Linked DNA regions of Homo sapiens: region 2 is linked to region 1. Evidence: fine-mapped expression QTL. A gene starts in region 1. The other region holds a variant in brackets. All regions are shown on one strand. Distances are between the middles of the regions.

What was found.
Region 2: its variant is fine-mapped to the expression of CCDC154 in putamen (GTEx, PIP 0.92).

What each region holds. Positions count from the first base shown.
Region 1 is chr16:1,443,012-1,445,762 of GRCh38, reverse strand. CCDC154 (coiled-coil domain containing 154) reads left to right here and starts at 1,207. Exons shown (of 17, transcript NM_001143980.3): 1 at 1,207-1,447; 2 at 1,751-1,967; 3 at 2,068-2,257; 4 at 2,462-2,502. The coding sequence starts at 1,441. CLCN7 (chloride voltage-gated channel 7) reads left to right here. Exons shown (of 25, transcript NM_001287.6): 25 at 1-828.
Region 2 is chr16:1,417,544-1,420,546 of GRCh38, reverse strand. It overlaps UQCC4 (ubiquinol-cytochrome c reductase complex assembly factor 4), which reads left to right. Exons shown (of 2, transcript NM_001272051.2): 2 at 1-795. The coding sequence ends at 301. Among named protein-coding and RNA genes, the nearest start is that of UQCC4, 1.7 kb to the left of the region's middle. RefSeq lists enhancers at 37-86, 97-166, 1-509. The variant G/A (reference allele first, on the strand shown) is at 1,571.

The DNA of each region.
Region 1 (2,751 bases):
AGGGTGACCTCCCTACCCCGCCCCTGCCAGCCACCAAGCGCAGGTGCAGCGGGGGCCAGACTCCTGCCGGCCTCAGAGGACACCTGGCCCAGCACAGGCAGCTAGAAGGGCCGGTGGGCACCGGGGCCGGGAAGCCCCCACCTCACCACCTGAGGGCCCCTGGGAGGCTCCTCTGGCCTGGCTGGGCTGGGTCTGGGGCCGCCACAGGCCCCTCACGGGGCGGCAGAGGCAACTTCAGTGTCCCTGTTAGAGCAACACGGGTCCCTCCGTGGGGGGCTGGGTGCGGCCCCCTGCCGTGTATTTCCTCCCCAGGGAGTGGGGCCTCCCCGGGAGCTGACGCCACCACCCTGCTTAGCCCTCACAGGGCCCCAAGGTGTCCGAGTGTGTTGGGTCTGAACGCGAAATAAAGAAATCCTCTCAGCCCGCCTTTGCCAGCGTCGTCCCTCCCACCCCACCCAGACCACGTCCAACAGCCTGGGACTTTCGGGACCCTGGGGTCGGGGCACCGTGTGGAGTGAGAAAGGCGTGAAAGACAGCGGCTGCGGCCACCCAGGGCACCAGCCACATCCTCTTCCTCGTCCCCGCCCCTCAGCCTCCCTCCTCTGGCTCCTGGCTGGTGGGTCTGGGGGCAAGGCAGAGGCGCTCCAGGTGGAGGGGGGCGGGCCGGGGTGCCCACGCTGGGGTGACGCAAGAAGAAAACTCCCGGGCCTCAGAGTCGGCGCCGGAAACCTAGGTCTGGGTTTCCCTCGTGGTGGTTGTGTACTGAGGACCTGGAAGTGATCATATTTTGGATATATTCGGTTAAATAAAATCAGCGGTTAGGATTCACATCGCTGCTTCTTGCCTTTTAATGGGGCTGCTGAGCAAGATGGGTTCCCGTGGAGCCCGGCTGTGCCCCTCACCCCGATGGCGCTGCCCAGGCCTCGGGCTCCGCTCGGACGTGGGCCTGGCTGTGTCCGGGGTGTCCTGGGGCTCTCGGCCTCCCTGCTCCCAGCGTCCCTCCCGGCGTGCCCAGGCCTCGTCAGGGCCTCCTTCCCCTCCCTCGGCAGCTGAAGAAGTCCCCTTTGCCAGAGGACACGTGTCTGCGCCCTCTCGGGAGTGGGGCCCCTCAGATCCATCCAGAAGCAGGCAGTTGGGGGGCCCTGCGGGAGTGGGAGAGCTGAGGGCTAGAGTTCCATTGGCAGTTGGGCTGTGAAGCCGTGAGGTTCTGGGGAGAGAAGGAAGGTTCTGGAACGGCCCCGCTGCCCCACACCTGCCTCCCTGGGGACCCTGAGAAGGCAGCCAGACGAGGGCAGCAGCTCGTCCCTCAAGGCCCAGAGCTCTCACGGGACTTCCTCTGGCTCCTGACCCCCCTGGCCTGTGCCCAGCTCTGGGCAACCTCAGAGGCCCCAAGGCCCAAGCTACAGCCGAGGGCAGGGTGGCCGGTGCAGCCCAGCAGCCATGTCAGGTGACCAGAGCGGAGGAGCGGGGCCCAGGGAGGGGCTTGCCACAGGTGTGAGGGTGGGGACCGCTCTGCTTCTGACCCCGGGCTCCCTCCAGCTCGCTTGTTCCTGCCGCCCAGTGCTGTGTGTCTTCAGGCAGGGCCCTGGACTTGTCTGAGCCAAGCCCGTCTGGATCCTGTGTGACCCAAGGAGACGCGTTGAGCTCTGGGTGGTGGGCGAGGGTCCTGCGGGGGTTTGGGGCCTTGTTCCCGTAAGCTCCAGTGGGGGCCGGGCCCCAAGGGGCAAGCTCCCAAGATGCCTCCTTGTAGAGTTGGCTGACAGTGGACCCTCAGGGGCATCGGCCCCTTCCCAGCTGAGAGCCGTCACCCTGGAAGACCTGGGGCTCCTCCTGGCAGGAGGCCTGGCCAGCCCCGAGCCCTTGAGCCTGGAGGAGCTCTCGGAGAGGTATGAGTCCAGCCATCCGACATCCACGGCCTCTGTCCCCGAGCAGGACACCGCCAAGCACTGGAACCAGCTGGAGCAGTGGTGAGCCCTGCAGGGGGTGCTGGCGGGGGAGGACCACGTCGCCGCCGCCTCCGCCTCCACGGCGGGCACCGCCAGACTCGCCCACTCTCGCCCCGGCCAGGGTGGTGGAGCTGCAGGCCGAGGTGGCCTGCCTGCGGGAGCACAAGCAGCGCTGTGAGCGCGCCACGCGGAGCCTGCTGCGGGAGCTGCTCCAGGTGCGGGCCCGCGTGCAGCTGCAGGGCTCAGAGCTGAGGCAGTTGCAGCAGGAGGCGCGGCCGGCAGCCCAGGCCCCCGAAAAGGAGGCGCCGGAGGTGAGCGGCTCCCCCACCCACAGGTCGAGCTGCCCCTTTCCTGGGTGTTGGGGGCAGCTGCTTCTGGGCCTGGAGCCCAGCTCACCCCTGCTGCCCAGGCCCAGAGCTCCCAGGGGCCAGTGGTGCCGGAGCTGGGTGGACTCCAGGGGCAGGTGCCAGACCCGGGCCTAGGTCCAGCCCACAGCCTCCTCTTCCTCCTCGCAGTTCTCTGGTCTCCAGAACCAGATGCAGGCCCTGGACAAAAGGTACCCCCCACACACCTAGGGGCACAGGCCCAGGGCGGGGAGGTGGTGGCGAGAAAGCAGCGGCAGGTGTGGTGGGGGGTCCACATCTCCCGCTGGGTGTCGCTGGAGTGGGGGATACACATCCAGGTCCAGCTAGAAAAGGCCGGGTTTGTACGTGCCTGGGCGGCCTTCAGAGGCCCAGGAAAGCCATGGGAGGTGGCCACAGGGGCCCCTTGGCCAGACCCCCAGCCCGCCGAGGCTGCTCAGCCC
Region 2 (3,003 bases), 25 kb after region 1:
GGATCGGGCCCACCCTGCCGCCGAGGAAGAGGACGACCCTGACCGCCCCATTGAGTTTTCCTCCAGCAAAGCCAACCCTCACCGCTGGTCGGTGGGCCATACCATGGGAAAGGGACATCAGCGGCCCTGGTGGAAGGTGCTGCCCCTCAGCTGCTTCCTCGTGGCGCTGATCATCTGGTGCTACCTGAGGGAGGAGAGCGAGGCGGACCAGTGGTTGAGACAGGTGTGGGGAGAGGTGCCAGAGCCCAGTGATCGTTCTGAGGAGCCTGAGACTCCAGCTGCCTACAGAGCGAGAACTTGACGGGGTGCCCGCTGGGGCTGGCAGGAAGGGAGCCGACAGCCGCCCTTCGGATTTGATGTCACGTTTGCCCGTGACTGTCCTGGCTATGCGTGCGTCCTCAGCACTGAAGGACTTGGCTGGTGGATGGGGCACTTGGCTATGCTGATTCGCGTGAAGGCGGAGCAGAATCTCAGCAGATCGGAAACTGCTCCTCGCCTGGCTCTTGATGTCCAAGGATTCCATCGGCAAGACTTCTCAGATCCTTGGGGAAGGTTTCAGTTGCACTGTATGCTGTTGGATTTGCCAAGTCTTTGTATAACATAATCATGTTTCCAAAGCACTTCTGGTGACACTTGTCATCCAGTGTTAGTTTGCAGGTAATTTGCTTTCTGAGATAGAATATCTGGCAGAAGTGTGAAACTGTATTGCATGCTGCGGCCTGTGCAAGGAACACTTCCACATGTGAGTTTTACACAACAACAAATGAAAATAAATTTTAATTTTATAATATGGGATTAGATGATTCCCTTTTTTTGCATCTAGTTTTTAAAAAGGGGGTATTTGGGCAGCTATTGTTTTTTATTTTAATCTCTTCTTGTTTACCAGAGCACGTAAGTTAGTTGCACCAGCAGCTATTTTTAAAAGTTTCCTTTTCCGGTCGGGCGCGGTGGCTGACGCCTGTAATCCCAGCACTTTGGGAGGCTGAGGCGGGCGGATCACGAGGTCAGGAGATCGAGACCATCCTGGCCAACACGGTGAAACCCTGTGTCTACTAAAAAATACAAAAAATTAGCCGGGCGTGGTGGCGGGCCCCTGGAGTCCCAGCTACTCCGGAGGCTGAGGCAGGAGAATGGCGTGAACCCTGGAGGCGAAGCTTGCAGTGAGTCGAGATCGCGCCACTGCACTCCAGCCTGCACGACAAAGCGAGACTCCGTCTCAAAAAAAAAAAAAAAGTTTCGTTTTCCTTTTTTTTTTTTTTTCCAGAGTGGGAACTGAGGAAAGAAACCTACATATATATTACCGAATAGTACCAGAAATGAGGAACTTTTGCAGTTTTCTGCAAAACTTTTTAAGCAAGGCAACCATTTTCTGAGTAGAATACAACTAGTGAGTATTTCTTTTCACAAATGATGGGCACTATTTTGGGTTACCTAAGTGATTGTTTTTTGTTTTTTTGTTTTGTTTTGTTTTGTTTTTATTTTTGAGACAGGGTCTCACTCTGTCTCCCAGACTGGAGTGCAGTGGCACAATTTTGGCTCACTGCAACCTCTTGTCTCCTGGGTTCAAGCA[G/A]TTCTTCTGCCTCAGCCTCCCGAGTAGCTAGAACTACAGGCTTGTGCCACCACACCCGGATAATTTTTAAATTTTCAGTAGAGACGGGCTTTTGGCATGTTGGCCAGGCTGGTCTCAAACTCCTGACTTCAAGTGATCTCTCCTCCTCGGCCTCTCACAGTGCTGGGATTACAGATGGGAGCCACCGCGCCCGGCCCCAGATTGTTTTCTCTTTTTTTTTTTGAGATTGAGTCTTGCTCTGTCACCTAGGCTAGAGTACAGTGGCTCCATCTTGGCTCACTGCAACCTCCACCTCCTGGGTTCAAGCGACTCTCCTGCCTCAGCCTCCAGGGTAGCTGGGATTACAGGCACGCACCGCCACACCCGTCTAATTTTTGTATTTTTAGTAGAGACGGGGTTTCGCCATGTTGGCCAGGCTGGTCTCAGATTCCTGACCTCAAGTGATCTGCCCGCCTTGGCCTCCCAAAGTTCTGGGATTATAGGCATGAGCCACTGCGCCCGGTCAATTGTTTTCATACATATATACCTATACATGTTTCAGAGACATGCAGCAGATCCCAAGTGCCTCCAGGGCAGCGATCTGGGAGGGCTTTTCCAGTTGCTGACCTCACACCTGTGCCGTAGACAGACCCAAGGCCAGCTGGGGATGGTGGGCGGATCTTCCCTACTCCTGGAGTTTTCAAAGGATGGCAACAGAGCAGGTTGATAGGTGAACAGTTAATTCAGTACAGTTAGTATTTATTATTATTTTTTGAGATGGAGTCTTGCTCTGTTGCCCAGGCTGGAGTGCAATGGTACAGTCTTGGCTCACTGCAACCTCCGCCTCCGGGGTTCAAGCAATTCTCCCGCCCCAGCCTCCTGAGTAGCTGGGATTACAGGCGTGCACCACCATGCCCGGCTAATTTTTCTATTTTTAGTAGAGACAGGGTTTCACCATGTTGGCCAGGCTTGAACTCCTGACCTTAGGCAATCTGCCCACCTCGGCCTCCCAAAGTGCTGGGATTACAGGCAGGAGCCACTGCGCCCAGTTGTATTTAACTATTTTTGTAGTGTGTTTGTCTTGTTTTCCCAACTGGGCTGTAGCTTTTATTTTCCCCAGGGTACATGGCACACTGACCTCCCCAGATAAGCATTTGAGAGGGAGACCATTGTAAGCATGCTAGAACAGACGCAGCTGCAGCGATTCCTAAGATGACAAATGGCTGGGCAGGAGGTGGAAATTGTTTTTTGTTTTTTTGTTTTTTTTTTGAGACGGAGTCTCGCTCTGTCACCCAGGCTTGAGTGTGGTGGCACGATCGCGGCTCACAGCAACCTCTGCCTCCCGGGTTCAAGCAATTCTCCTGCCTCAGCCTCCTGAGTAGCTGGGATTACAGGCGTGCACCACTGCGCCCAGCAATTTTTTTTTGTATTTTCAGTAGAAACGGGGTTTCACC